Linked DNA regions of Homo sapiens: region 2 is linked to region 1. A link means that fine-mapping ties the variant in region 1 to the expression of a gene that starts in the linked region. Tissue or cell type: lung. Region 1 holds a variant in brackets; the other region holds the start of a gene. All regions are shown on one strand. Distances are from middle to middle.

The links. PIP is the estimated chance that this variant, and not a neighbour inherited with it, causes the effect.
Region 2: ADARB2 starts here. The variant in region 1 is fine-mapped to the expression of ADARB2 in lung (GTEx, PIP above 0.99).

Annotation. Positions count from the first base shown.
Region 1 is chr10:2,049,799-2,057,905 of GRCh38, reverse strand. No RefSeq gene overlaps it. Among named protein-coding and RNA genes, the nearest start is that of MIR6072, 22 kb to the left of the region's middle. The variant G/T (reference allele first, on the strand shown) is at 4,884.
Region 2 is chr10:1,734,223-1,742,329 of GRCh38, reverse strand. ADARB2 (adenosine deaminase RNA specific B2 (inactive)) reads left to right here and starts at 4,805. Exons shown (of 10, transcript NM_018702.4): 1 at 4,805-5,279. The coding sequence starts at 5,180. RefSeq lists a silencer at 4,856-4,915 and an enhancer at 4,877-5,473.

The DNA of each region.
Region 1 (8,107 bases):
AGCACCTGCATAACTGCCTCTGCTGACACCCCAGCTCTGCTCTGCTGACACCCCAGGGGCTCCCTGCACCACGTTCACTGCTGGAGTCTGTGCATCTTCCCTGCGCAATGGATGTTAGCCCATTTTAAGATAATGAGAGGGAAGATTGGAGAAGAGGAGGAAATGGTTTGAGAATATATATGTAGCAAAGAACAGAGATGGTATCTAACCCTGGGATTGTTTGACTCCACAGTTCTTGCTCTTGACATTTAAGTTTAAACTATAGAGATTCATAAGTCGATAGCGTTCCAGTTCCTGCGGCTCACACATTAGGCAGCTGCACCCTCTGCCTAAAGTGTGTGGGGCTTTCCCTATGCACTCACAAAAAAGCTCACAGGGTCACAGGGTGAAGACCCAAAACAGTCTGTGTGCAAGCTGAGGAGCAAGGAGGCCAGTAGGTGGATCAGTCCAAGTCCCAAAACCCCAAAATTAGGGAAGCCAACAGTGCAGCCTTGTCTGTGGCCGAAGGCCCGAGAGCCCCTGGCAAATCACTAGCGTGAGTCCGAGAGTCCAAAAGCCGAAGAACTTGGAGCATGATGTTCTATAGCAGGAAGCATCCAGCACGGGAGAAAGATGAACGCCAGAAGACTCAGCAAGTCTGCTCTTCCATCTTCTCCTGCCTGCTTTATTCTAGCTGCACTGGCAGTTAGATGATACCCACCCAGATTGAGGTGGGTCTGCCTCTCCCAGTCCACTGACTCAAATGTTAATCTCCTTTGGACACACCCTCACAGACACACCCACCGTCAATACTTTGCATCATTCAATCCAATCAAGTTGACACTCAGCATTAACCACCACAAATGTAATAGTAATTGCAAAAGTAAGATGACAGCACAATTGTATAACCATGCCTGACCATAAGCTCAAACCAATCAACTCTCTGTTTAGAGGTAGAGAAATTTAAGCTGAAGGTGTTGGGAAGAACCATCCAGATTACCAAGATAAATCAATGGAAGTCATCAACGGCTCATTTAAGACATTTTATCACGTACAAAGCCACAAATTCTTCTATTTCAACGTTTCCAAGTTTTATGATTATGAGGGTATTTGTGTGTTTCCCAGCAGTACAAAGGTGCAATTATCACTAGTTTATATTGTATCTCTTTAAGGTGCATATCACGCTGCTTTGATACACAGGTACATTGTGAAATGATTGCTACAGTTACCTTTTACACGTGTCATAAAAACACCTAAAATCTACTCTCAGCAAATGTCCAGACTACAATATTATTAACTGTAGTCCTCACACTGTACGTTATGTTCCTAAAACATATTCATCCTACATAGTTTACATTTTCTATGCTTTGACATATATCTGTGCTCATATCCCAGCCCCAGCATCTGGTAAGCACCATTCTACTCCCTGTTTCTACATACCTAAGTTTTATCTTTTGTTTTAGATTTCACACGTAAGTAAAATCATGCAGTACTTTTCCTTCTGTGTTGCTTTTTTTATTTAGAATACTGCCTTCCTTTGGTCTACCCAAAAATCACTACCTTGATAATAAGATATAATAATAATATAACAATAATAATAAATATATCTGCGCCTTCATTTTCATTGCAGCATTATTCGTAATAGGCAAGACGTTGTGCTTACCAAAGTGTCTGTTGGCAGAGGAATGGATAAATGAATTGTGATATATATACATATACACACATATGTTTGCATAGCACACACACACACACAAACAATGGAATATAATTTAGCCCTAAAAATATCACTCTTGATAGTATTTTTACCCATATCATATGAGATGATACTATAAGAGACTAAATGAATTACCACATCACTGGTTCTACACTATCAAAGAGAGAGATTTTCCCTGAAATCAAAATATTAAACAGAATGTCAACTAACCAATATAATTGGGTACAAATGTTCCTGAAATCAGAGGGAATTCGGAACACGGATTTTTTGTTCTCCGACATTCTGAAATGGACAGGCATGATCCAGCATACAGCTGAGTTGACTCAAAAATAAAATCTGGGACAGAATAAAAAGGACTAAGATAAAACTCTACAGTGATTTGATTGTTTACAGAGATTTAAATTCTGAGAAGAGCCCAGCTCCTTCTAAAAGCAGATGTGATTTTAATCTAAATTCTTCTGTGCCCACAGAAGTGCTGTTCTTTCTTTTTTTTCAAATAATATATTTTATTTACCTAGCATGTCAAAAATAGTACCATTTTCATATGTGATCTAAGTATAATTTTTCATGGACGTAAGGAAGGAAACATCACACACCGGGGCCTGTCGGGGGGTGGGGGGCTACGGGAGGGATAACATTAGGAGAAATACCTAATGTGGGTGACGTGTTCATGGGTGCAGCAAGCCACCATGGCACATGTATACCTATGTAACATACCTACAGGTTCTGCACATGTACCTCAGAACTTAAAGTATAATCTTTTTTTTAAAGAAAAAGAAGTGCTATTTTCTAATCTAATATTTTTTACTCTCTTCACAGAAAAAAAAATAGAAGTAAAGTCCCTATATATTTCTTCATCAAATTAATTACATGGGCACGTGTTTTGGCTCCAAATGACTATAATTTTCTCTGCAATTTCTCTGAGTTTCTAAACTCTAATGGGAAGCAGTCTTTGTACTAGAGAAAAACTTCAAATTCCATAAATCGAGATGGAATAGCAGAGTTGTTTGCTTTTGTATGGGTTTGTATATTTAATGAAGCTCTAGATAAGATAATGGGATTCACTTCTGATGCACATTCAAAGATATTTCTGGGCCTTCCACCATCAGCCTGTTATGATTAATATACCTAAAGTCGACAGAGACACACACATATAAAATAGTAAATGCTTAAATAAAAAATGTTATGTATAGCCATATAATTTAAATGTTCTGTTTTTGTCACCAAGAAAGAGGTCTAGGAGAATCTTCTGTGGCTAAATATTGGACAGAAGGCTTCTGAAAAATCCAGAGATTGCTGTCGGAAAGCAATTAAGCTGGAGAAATTACATTAGAGGAGAGCAGATGCCATATTCAAGCCAGTTCCCTATTTTTCATGCAGTTGGGGCTCGTGGGTCTTTTATTTCCTAATAAACAAAAGATTGACAAACACCTGTCCTTTCCCTCAGCAGGTAAGGTGTTTATTAGAGGAGTAAAGGCAACATCATGAACAAGTGAGCTCTCCTCTTCGTATTCTAAGTTAAGAGTAAAAGAAGTTAAGAGTAAAAAGAAAATCGAGGAATTTAGAATGTTTATCCCCTTTTAGATTGAACTTCACCAACAGCCTAATGCGACTTTTACATGGTCTTTTAAAGTCCATTGTCCTTACAGAGGGGCGCCCACGTTGGCAACAAACCTTGTCTAGTGGCAACGACCGAGTTTTCTTATCTATTTGTGCTGTCTGCCAATCAAGCGAGCTATTTTTTTTTCTTCTTTGGGGCGATCAAAACATGACCAAAACACTATGCATAATTAGACAGAACCGTGGTTTAAAACATCACAGAAATCATATTTCTCTAATTTTCTCATGCGCTAAATCCACGGAGGTCAAAAGTTAAGTACTTTTTTAAATTTCAAATTTTATCATCAGCAGGGTCCTGAACTGTGTGTGCGTGTGTGCTTTTTACCTTGCCATATTTTAGCTTTTCAGATTTTTTTGCTCTTGTGCTTTATAGAAATGTGTCGATGACTTTACCTCCTCTTTGACAATTTAAAAATGTCTTTCTGTTTTCAATTTAAGGATTCATTTCACCATATGGTCTGTTTAGCCTGATAAACCCTCCTGCCCATTATGAAATAATTGTAGCTGTAGAGAACCATCCGTATCTCTGTAGGTGAGGTTATGCCAGTGTTTTCATGTGCACTGACCTCTTCTCCTACTCCAGGAATTTATCACCGAGCAGTCAATTTATTTTAAATCTGCAACCTGGTGTATAGGAACTATTTGTCATGATGTATGTAGCCCAACAGATCATTTTTGTTCAGAAATGTGACTGTCGTACTCAAATCCATTCTTCTGGGAAGCTGGAGTCAGGCAAACATCTATGTTCCTTATGGATGGTGTCGCAAATCAATGCAATGGCGTTCTCTCAGATTAACACAGAATTAAGCATAAACTATTTTTCAAGAGTCATATAGACCTTCAGAGCAACAATGCAGAAGGCAGATTTTAATGTTGGTGATGCATAGTAACATTGTCGCATGCCAAGATATTTTATTTTGGTGTGTGTTTAATTTCTAATAAAATTATTCTGCCTCCTACATTACTAAATTTGAAATTCTTGTTGGATTTTGCTATTACTCATGTTCATTTCAATTTGGGCCATAAACATAAGCCACCTAAAAAGTTGTAAAATGTTGCATATAGTGAGAAAAAAGCAATGAAAAGGCTTTTGGAAATGCTCTATTCCGCCAGCTCCCTCACTCTGATCATCCAGGGATACCTTGTCTTCTTCTCTTCTCTCCCAGAAACGCACACACCTTTCTCACCCTGCCATACACCGTCTTCTTTCTGCCACCTGGCATAGCTCCACCATCCTGTCGACCAATCCTACCTGTTTCTTAGGGCCCAACTTTCTGATGGAGATAAATAGATCCATGAATGATAATTAGCCATTTGCTCATTTGCTTATTGAATGCATATATCTCATCTCATGCATGGCAAAGCTTTCTCTAGGGGATGGGGTTCCTCAGCGATCACATGTTCTAATGTTTGGGAAAGAAGAAAATCTAAAAATAATGCATAAATAATCTTTTATCTAAAATATTTTCTATTTTTACATCATTAAACAAAGTGATGAAACATAAATCAATATTTTCCAACTGACATAAAGGTTGGAAGATGACGAACAAGATGTTCTGTCCCAGTTGGA[G/T]AAATAGCAACATCCTGTCTATGTTCTGGCCATTCTTGCCATGACTGTGATTTCTAATTAGTTGATTTATTGTTTGTTGTGGCATTTTCTAACTTAAACTCTAATACATCAATGGTTTCTGAGATTTGACCCAGAAACTCAAAATGTGCGTTAAAAGGAAGCCATATTTTGCTGAGTATTTAGAATAAACATTACTGTACTTTAGTAGTAAACAAGTACGTGGGATTCAAAAATTCATATCTCCAAATTTGACTATTCTCAAGAAACCACAGGTATAGGAGGGACAATTATGTTGATGTCTGAATGCATACGTTCTTTGGTGGTTAACCAACCTCACTCACCATCCAGGGTCTGCATTCTGGTGAGACCCCCGCCACCCCAGGCCATGTCACATGCATATTTACGCCTACTGGATAAACAACATCCTGCTGTCTGTGTAAAAGAAAATGGCACAAAGAACTCAACCTCTAGTGAGGGTGACAGAGGCAAAGACAATATCAAAGATTTTAAGCAGCTGGTGGTCCCGTGCCCGAAAAGAGAGATGTTCCATAAATAAAATAATCAAATGTCAAATGACTCAGCACTGAATAAAGGTTAGTACGCTATATCCTTGTAGGACAAAGAAAAACGAGCACACAAAATGGTTACTTTTTATGATTAAAAATAAAGAGTCATGCAAAAAACAAGACCCTTTTGCAAGTTGAAAAGGCAGTTGAATGTGGGTTGCGAATCCATGAGAGAAACTGAGTAACAGATGGAGACGCGGCCAGGGCAAACCAGAAGCATATGCAGAATTTTCCTGTGATAAACTGCTTAAAAAAGAGCCACAAGCAATTATTGGTTGTTTGGAAATGGCAAGAAACACGTCTCTCCCTAAAGAATGCCTGTAACAATAGTAATAATAATTGTAACAATGTTAATAGCATGGGTAATAAGTGTAATAGTTGTCATGTGCCAGCCACTGTTCCAAGCTCTTCACAGGGAAAAATTCATTAAATAGTTCATGATTAGGAAAAGAGTTATAGTTGTTTTTGCAGCTCTCAACATCCAGACAAATTATAATTTTAATATATGCTGCTACCATCTGGCTGCAACCACCAATAGTACCAGACATCACAGCTACTCTTTACTGATCTAGCCCATGTCAGGCACTGCGATTGTCTTTCTGTATGTCTTTCCTCACCAAATTCTTATGGCAGCACAATCTGATACAAACTGCGCAGGTAATGATGTAGTATATTGTTGAACAATTACAGTAGAAAGCTATATTGGACATTTATAAATAATTCATACATTTAAGCCTTTATAAAGTAATTGTGTATACAGACTACTTGCCACAAAGTCAAGTGCCCTGTTGATAATTTTCATAACACTCTCTGCATCTCCATAGTTCTTATCTGAATTGCAATCACTTAACTTTTCTTTGTTCAATTTATCTCCTACTCCATCTTTCTATGGACGCCGTATAAAAAGGGAGCATGTATTCCTTGTGATCTTTGTATCACTAAAATCGAGCAGAGGCACGACACACTTTATACCATCTTAACCGTTTTTAAGTGCACCGATCAGCAGCGTGCAGTACATTCCCCTCTCTGCACAGCAGAGCTTCAGATCCTTTTCATCCTGCACAACCAAAACTTGGCTTGCAGTAAACCATAATTCCCCCTACTTCCCCCAGGCCTTGGCAACCACCTCACTGCTTTCCATTTCTATGATTTTGACGACTTTAGGTGGTTCGTAGAGTGGGACCATATGCTATTTGCTCTTTTGTGGCTGGCTTTATTGCACTCAGCACAATATCCATTCATGTGGAAGTACATGACCAGATTGTTCTATTTTTCTGAGACTGAAAAATATTTCAGAGTTGGAAATATCAGCAATTCACTTAGGACTAACTATCATGGAGGGACCCGTCAGGAAATTAAGAGAAATCAGTTGGATATATGAACCTTGAGTACAGGGAAGAATCCAGGATGAACATATAATTTGGAGACTTATCAGCATTACATACTATTTATGATAGTAGGTGACTCCTCAAAAGAATGGGAGGAAAGAAAGAAGACAAGAAGTCTTGGGGCTGGATTTTGGCACAGTTTACCATTGAGAAGATGACGAGGAATTAATAAATCAGATTGAAAGGAGAAACCCGAGATGAAGGAGAGATAAACGAGAAGTGTGTAGTATCCTAGAATGTACATAGTTCCTAATATTTTGATATGGTGCACAGGCTTTGGGTAATTTACTTTTTTTTAATATATGTAAATATGTCAGTAGGATAACTTACTATACTAAATTTGTTCAATCAAGAGTGTGTGTTATTAGGGTACCCGCCAAAATGTCCTATAAAGAGGGCACCATTTATAACCCCACTAATGATGGAAGAGAACGCATGTGTCCCCACCTGTGGAAAACACAATACAAAATAAAATGTTTTGATCTTGGCAAACTGGATTGTAAAAACAGGCAATATTTTCAGTTTATGTGTTTTAGAGACATTTTCTTTTTTTCTTCTTTAAGATTTTTAAGCTTCTCATTCATTCCTCTGTAGTGAGTTGAGTTATGCGCACAGTTGAATATATTGCCATGGAAGAACCTTCTATCTGTTAAGGAAATGAATCTTCTATCTCTGAAGAATATTACAAATGTTTCTCTATAAGGTGTCACTTGTTTTTCCCTCTCTATGTGCATATATGTGTGTTTCTATGTTGAAATTCCAAATTTGTGTGCAGCCAAATTTAACCGCCTTACCATTTATAGATTTTTTTTGTTACATTAATATTATGAAAAGGATTATTCCTCTTTTTACTTCCACTAAATGTATCGGGCCTTTTTTTTTTACACCTTTGATCATCTTTGAATTTATTTTGGTATAAAGTATAAGTCAGAAATGTAAAATTTTACTTAATTTTGCCTTTAGCCACCAAATTGTACCAAATATTTACGGCATGATATTTTACCTGCTGATCTGCAGTGTTACTTTGACAAATCTACTCAGTTCCCTCCTTTATTTCATATTATATTAACACTTCTGGAACTTCCCTACGCATGGAGTCTACACATCTGGGTTTCCTTGCAGTTAGGTCCTGGTTGATAAGTTATGAACAGAAGTGATGTGTGTGATTTCTGGGATGAATAACTAAATGGAAGGATCACATTCCTATAACAATGGGTCAGATCCCTATATGATTCTGAGTCATATCCCTATATGATTCTGTCATAGCCCT
Region 2 (8,107 bases), 320 kb after region 1:
TTTCCCTCCTTTTACAGATGATGTTCAGAAAGGGTTATGTCTTCCCCAATGTGTTAGACCCATAGCACCAACAGAAGCAGAATTTGGAGTCTGTTCTTGTGATTATGCATGTAGGATTTTTTTTTCACTTGTATTTTCCAAGCACTGTCTTTTTATTTTATTTTATTTTTTATTATTTTTTTGAGATGGAGTCTCACTCTGTCACCCAGGCTGGAGTGCAGTGGTGCAATCTTGGCTCTCTGCAATGTCTGCCTCCTGGGTTCAAGTGATTCTCATGCCTCAGCCTCCCCAGTAGCTGAGACTACAGGTGTGCACCACCACACCTCGCTAATTTTTGTATTTTTAGGAGTGACGGGGTTTCACCATGTTGGCCAGGATGGTCTCGAACTCCTGACCTCAGGTGATCCACCCGCCTGCTTTACACCAAGTTCATTCAGGAAATTGCTAAGTGTGCATTTGCTGTTCTCAAACCATAAGCATGCCTCCAAGAAAAAGAATGAACAAAGGGAAAAACTACTCTGGTAAAAGTGTAGGATAAAGAGCATTTCATATTCAAGATGCTCCTCTGCATCCTGGGACTTCTCTGCTGCCCCCTCCCCTTCACCAGCCTCCTTCCATGCCCTTTGAAGAGAATGTGAATACACGTGCATGTGGCATAGCAGGTATATTGCACAATATTATTTGGAAATACTTTCAGGTCTCATGCCCAAGTTCTTTGATGTGTGTTATTTAGACTTAAGAGCAACGGCTGAAGATGAAAGAGTAAAAAAGTCCCCTTGTGCTATTTCTTGTAAAAAGTCATAATTGTGTGTCATATGTGATGATAAAGTGAGTCAGCAAACACAAATATCTCCAGAGAATCCTTTATTCTGCTATTTTCCACCTAGTGAAATTGTCTGATGGAGGGAAGGGGATATTAACTAGAATTCTGATTCTAAAGAAACCATGTTTGTTTGTCAGTGTTATTTGTTTCGGGAAACCAATAAGAAATCAAGTCAGCCAACCCTTTAACTATCTGGAAAGACATTGCAATGCATTAAGAACTGAAGTATTGTAAGTCAGTATTGACCATCAGGACTTTGAAGCAAAGAATAGTTGTCCATGTCTTCAGACAGGTCAAGGAGTTGAGAGGAAAACATTCGGGAGTGGGCACAAGATGATCTGAATATGGGTTAAAAGATGCAAGCTGTGTGGTCAGCCGCAGGAAGGATGCCTTAGGTCTCTCTTTTGCAGAAATAAAAGATCAGGGCAGTTATGTGAATCTATGAAATTTCTCATGGCTGTTATTTCGGGAATGTATTGGAACCTTACATTCGGGTCATGGCTCTGCTGCTATCTGGCAACATGACACGAATCCAGACCTCACACTTCACCTTCGTAACCTCAGGGGAAAAATGAGGATGATAAGGTCTTTCTGTCCACATTGTATGTTCATTCTGAGGAAAGAAAAATTCTGATATGTTTATATGTGTGTATATTATGCACACACATAGGCTTACTGAAGCTTTGAGTCACTATTTAATGTATTTTTTGCTTATCTCAAGAAGGCTTGTAGAAGTTCACAAAATCTACCAATTTCAGGCTGCAGGATAAAATACCAGCAGGGCGTAGTGGTAACAACCCCAGACTGTGAAGTTAGGATGTGCTGAATGTGAATCCTGACTAGTAACCCGTGTGACTTCTAGCAAGTTACCTAAGTTGTCTGAGCCTCTGAAATGAATATTGTTTCAGTCCTGCCGCCATCGAGGTCTTGTGCATTAACTGAGAGTCACTATAACATTTAAGCTCAGAACCATACCTTGAGCAGAGCAAGCACTGCCCCAGTGGTAAATATCAGCCTCTGCCCTGCAAGGACACTTGTGTCCCAGGTCAGTGCCCGCACAGCCGCAAAGCCACAGAGAGACGTGGTTTTGCCTCCTGTGGTGCTTGTGATCTATGGAGAGACAGACATTGAAGAAACAAGCAAAATATCACACAGGAGACCTGTAACATTGTAGGACTGATGAGAGCAACAGTGAGTTGGGGGAGCTTTAAGCAACTCCAACAAGAGGACCCTTTCTGGCCTTGATTGAGAAAACTCTTCCTCCTGGCACACACATGCCATTTGGGTGTGGGGACTCACTGCGGAGGCAGCACTGCCCCTTCTATCCAGCCAAGGGCTCCTTTCTATGCCTCACCCGTCTCCCCCCGACCCCTATAGGTTCATGCCGGGCTGCAGTTGGCTTTGTAGCTGCCTGTTCCTCCTTGCAACCTCTCTGCTGGTGCTTTGTTTTGTGGGAAGAGCAGGGACTGAGCATGAAGTAGCTGGGGACACCACAGCGACATCTCCTGATGGGCACCGGGCGAGATTGGCTCCTGCTCCTGAAGCCTCTTCCAACTGCTGCTCATCCCACCACGTTGCAAAGCTGCGCTGAGGCACTGTGGGAAACAGGCAGGAGGTGAGGAGGCTCATCGGGGAATGGCAGCTTACCAGCACTGCTCACTCGCAGCCCTGCTTGCAACAGCAGAGTGAGACGTGCTGGAAACCACGCTGGAGTTAACGCACTTGTCGCTGCGAGCCTCTTCTTTAAAGCCCCTCTGTGATGAGAAACAAAGGCTTTCTCGCCTAGCCGTCGCCCTAGCATCATCTATTATGCATCGTCTTATGCAAAATAAATAAAATACAGAAAACAGCAAGTATCTGTGAAAACAGCATTTTCATAAATTATACAAAAAAGAACCAATTGGAGGAACTTCAAGAAAAAGGTTTGCCAAAATTTCGATCGTAACTTTCAAATTAGGGTCTAAATGAAGTGTTCAAAGACAGTTTTCAGTTTTGTTTCCCCACTCCACCAACATCAGAAGAACATTTAACAGACACGTTACTTTCCGGCCACCATACCTGCCCTTGGAGTGAAACAAGGGTTCATGTATACGAGTCTCCCAGACAGCACGGTTGCTCCGTGTGATGATGGAGCTATTGGGGCCATTAATAAATGCTGACCACCTTGTGGGGGCTGTGTGTGTGTGTGAAGCTCTTCTGAAGCACCTTCCTTCGGTGACTCCACCCCCTGATGGGTTTTCTGCAGATACAGAAATAGGGCAACTCTGGATTAGTGCAGCACATTGTGTGAAGCTCAGAAGTTTCACAGGCAGAGTCCTAGAGCTGTGTTTCTCGATATAGTTTAAGCACTCAAATATCTCGGGTATTGCAGAGAGGAAGTGAGAGAGCTATGTGCCTTCTCAACCCTCGCTGGGAATTATCAGCAGAGCTGAGCTGTGCTGTCATGGGAACAGGGTTGTTGAAGCCAGCCCTGAAGAGGGATGTTGGTTTGATTGTGGTCCTCAGTCTGAGTTGGACTAGAAGGTTCAACATTCTAAAAGGAAAACGCAGAAGCCCTGTCTTTCTGAGGCTTGTCTGCAACATACGCTCATTCCTTCCAAATTATTTGCTGGAAAAAATTTAATAAATAATCATAGAGTAATTAACATGTTCCAGTTCCTGTCTATACTGGTTGATACTGATTCAACGAGTATGAATGAACTTATGAGGTGGGTGACGTTGTTATCCCCAGTTTACAGATGAGGAAACTGAGGCACGGTTTAACTTACCCGAGGTCATAGCAGTAGAGTTAAGATTTGAAATCAAATGTCTTACTCTCTCTCATCAATGAAAACTGAGCTACGATCTATCAGCTCAGCACATAACAACACAGGATCATCCTAATTATTTCCAATGTCCCCCAGAGTGATTCTTTTTTCTTATGATAAAAATTATCTGGAAATTTCTAGGCACATAAGCAGCTGAAAAGGTTGCATGTGAGGCAATGAATAGCAGAAATATTTGTGTGCCATTTTTATATCAACATGTTAATGTGTGCTAATGAATTTTAGAGTGGATTTTTTTAAAAACATGACTATTGTAATTAAAAGCTTATGTGATTTAAATACAAGATGCAATGATGATTACCAGATTCTATTCCTCTTTATATTTTACATAAGACTTCCAGGGTTCCATAAGTATAATCTTGAAACATAGGACATTCCTGGAAAAAAAAATTGCTTAAAACTATTTCAGTGTGCAATCCACCTCTTTGTAAATGTTACTTTCTTCCATCCAAATATTACATTTGGCAACAAAACTCTCCGCTGAGAGCTTTCTCTTCCTTTTGTGTCATTGTTCCCTAAATAAAGCAACACATGAAATTCCTGACGGCAAAAATCAGACTCAGATCCCAAAACCTCTGTCTTTATGCAAGATTTATCTTTTGCATTGGAAACGGCCAAGGAATATGAAGAGGGGAAAGAAGAGGCAAACAGACAAGCATGCAGGCTCTGAGGAATAAATGCCCCTCAGGACGCTGTCTCCTGGGGAATTGCAAACCTCAGTCCGTTTCTGAGGAAGTGCGGTCTCTGCATTTCTGAAAGAGGTATTTCCCCCCCTTGACACAAGGAGCATGGTAATGAATTGACTAGTTAAAAACTGTTGGTTGGAAAAACCCGTCCCTGTGTCTTTCTGAGCAGGGCGAGCTGAGCTGTCCGCGAGGCTGCGGCAGGAGGCCTCGTCCTCCCGGGCAGGGTCCCTCCTGGAGGCTCCCCCGGTCTCTCCCAGACGCACCCGCGCCGCGTCCTTGTTCCCCGGGAGCAGCCTCCCTCCAGCCGCCGGTCCTGGGAGCTTCACCGTCCAAACGGGAGCTGAGTTTGCAAGCGGCCAGGCGGCGGTGCGGCTGGTGCTGCTGCTGATGTCAGAGCCAGAAAGCAGTTGTGATTGGATCTAATTAGACGCTGCTGCAGCAAATAGACAAGCTCCCTGCGTGATTGGCTTCAAAGTGGCTGGTGCCAAACAACTAGCAGAGGCGCAAAAGTAGCCTCCCTGCGCTGGGAGCCCAGAGCAGGAGGCAGAGCCCGCGGGAAGCTCGGAGCACTCAGGACGCCGCGCGCCCTTCCCCGCCCTCCCTGACCAGGGAGCAGCTCGCTCCAGGCGCCCAGCCGAGGCCCCCAGCCCAGTGGGAGCAAGTCATAGAGAACAATTCGAGAGACAGAGAGACGGAGCGCGCTTTCCTGCTCAGTCCTGAAAAGTGAGCCGCTCCCGGGTTTGCAACCTCAAGCTTCGCAGCAGCGGCGGCGGCGGCTGCCGGGAAGGAGGCAGGTGCAGGTGCAGGAGGGAGGCGGCTCTGGGCTCCGCGCCTGGGTCTCGGCCATGGCCTCGGTCCTGGGGAGCGGCAGAGGGTCTGGAGGGCTGAGCAGTCAACTCAAATGCAAGTCCAAGAGGAGGAGGAGGCGGAGGTCCAAGCGGAAAGGTAAGGACCGCGTGGCGCGCCGGCCCCTGCCCCCCTTCACCCCCGGCTTCTCCACCCCGGCCTCTCATGGGGTCTCCGGGCTTGTCCGTTGTGAGCAGCTTCACTTTGGGGTGCTGGCGGGATGGCTGCTCCGTGCAGGGCGCTCGGGAGTTCAGATCCCGTGGAAATGTCTGGGGCCTCCTCTTGCCCAGAGGGGACAGTGAGCAGCCACGCTGCGACATGTTTGAGGGACCCGGACGAAGTGGGGCGAGGGCGGCGAGGAGCTCCCCGGGGACCCCGCGCGTCTCCGGGCCCCGCAGTCCCCAGTGGCCGGCCGGGCTGGCACTGCCTTCCACCCTCCGGAGGCCATCTCGTCTCCCAGTGCCAAAGGAATTACCCAAAAACGGGGGAACGAGCCCTCGCGCCAGCTACTCCCATCCAAACTGTCCCGGAGGAAGGGATAGGCGAAGCCCTGCGATCGCCTCTCCAAATTGGCTGGCAGTTTTTACTCAATGTGGTGCCCGTCGATTTGTAAACATTGGGTCGTAAAGAGAACACAGGGCTCGTCCTTGGAGAAATAAGCAGAAATGAATACAGGAAAACAGAAAGAAGCATCATATTTTGTTAGTGGTAGAAAAAAACCGCAAACCAGGAAAGCAGGAAAAGCAGCCGGCTGACAGCGGCCACTGACAAACTCAGCTGTGCCTTGTTACTGATATTCCTGGGGCTGGGCCGCGCTGAAGTTAGTCAATGCTACAGCAAGGGAGGGCTTTCACACTGGGGATTTTGCAAAATTAGCAATCGCTCCAATATGAGAGCAATGCCCCCAGTGCCATCGTAGCCTGTGTGCATGCCAGGAAGAATTAAAAGATTCTTCTCATGCCGACCCTTCTCTCCTAGAGGAACCTGTGTTATTGTCAGTTCCTAGTGAGCCTGCAGGAGAAAGTTCAGTTCTAATCATGATTTGAAATGTGCTGATTTTTTTTAAGTGAGGTAGAAGTATAAAGAACGGTTGGAAAAACACAGCTAGAATTGATCAGCTTTGCCAGTTGTTTGAAAGCAGGAGGCAACGTTAGGTGTGTTTGGGGTTGTCCATCTTTCCTGAAGAATTTTCATCTTTGCATTGGCCTAAGATAAGTTTCTACCAGACCGTTTCCTGTGTGCCCTCGAACCGTCACCAGGTCCTTTATTGCCTCTTCCAATAATAGAAATTATCCAGACAGTCAGCAGGCATAAATGTCAATAGCAAACAGTCATTCATTATGACCGAACGTCAGGACCACTGGGAGGGATTGGCCCCCACAACTTCCTCAAAAGGTTTTGGAGCCTTTGGTTTCAGAAGGGAGGTGATGTTGTGGTTCTCATTTACCTCTCAGCTGCTAAGTGTGCGCTTGCGATTCACTTTGTTGTTTGAAATTATCATTTTGAAACAGACCTGTTAGTGTCCTCCAAAGATAATGCCAACACAAAGTGGCATTGATATTGAGAAAGTCACCGGATTGAATAATGAATATGACTTTTAAAAGAGGAAAAAGGAAGCATCATCTTTACACTTGAAATGTTCACATTTCCCAATATTTTTTGATTAGTCTATTTAAATATTTAGAGTTGAAGAATGTGGAGTAATAGTTCGCAATAATGCATTTTATAAATATAAACAGGAGGAAAGTGTTGCCTTTCTCCAAATTCACTTGCCTTGCCAGGAAGCGTCAGTCATGCTAGCTTAGAAAGTATTCAATTTAGGGGGAAAAAGGAAATCTGGGGAAAGACTTCATTTGCTATAAACTTAACTTTAGCAATTCAAAATAAAACTCCTATAGCAAATATTTCCATACCTTGGTTATTTTGAATATGTCAAGTCCCTTAATTTTCATAGCCAAAAATTGAAGCGGGAAAGGGCATTCAGGTTTTGTACACTGATTTCTGTTACGAAGAGATTTCTGGCGTGCGGGAGAATTTCCCAGGGCACCTGCCGGCAGCTATCTTGATAGGAAAGTCAAATCAAACGGCTAAAGATTCAATTTTTGGGGAAACGTTAACCATGTAGATGTAACTGATCAAATTAAAAGGTAAAGTAACCAGCTAAGAGACACATTAAATAATTATTTGCATTTTCCTGGGAATTGATTACTTCATCTATGATACCTAGTTATTACAGATGCTGATATTTTTTATTTTATAAAAACAATGGTGAGTTTAAATTATGTTCTAATTGTCATGAATCTTAACAACCATAAATGAATAGAATAACCTCAATTTTAAGCTTATCTGATATTAAAACTCTATACTTGCCACAATTTAAAATCCACGTGTGTATGAGAGACTGTTAAGGAATTTAGTGTGGCTCTATTAGGTGCTAACTGAAGACACTGACAGAAGCACAAGGTAAGGGCTGTTCTTATGGGGGAATAAAGACAATTAAGATACATGCTGACCCTGTTGCCTGTCAGATGCGTATTTCTACCTAGTCTAAGGGACAAGAATCATTTTTGAAGATGCATGATAACTTTAATTTCCCAGTGTGGTGACATCTGGCTCCTTTTCTATGTGTGACTCTGAGAGTGACTTTGGCATGATATGCTTCTTATCAAAATGATCTGTGAGCTCTGAAATAAAGCATGCCGGGGCTACCACTGAAGGGTGGTCAGGACACAATACTTTCATTAAGTATAATCCATAGTCTTGGAAATGATATTTTTTTCTGTAGAAGTTATATTTTAGTTACTATGCCACAAAGGCAGCTGTATGTATCTTTAAAAAAAAAAAAAAAAAAAACACCTTCGTCACAGAATATGACTTTCAGGTATTATTTGGCAGGAACCTGTATTTCTCTCTCAAATAAACTTTAA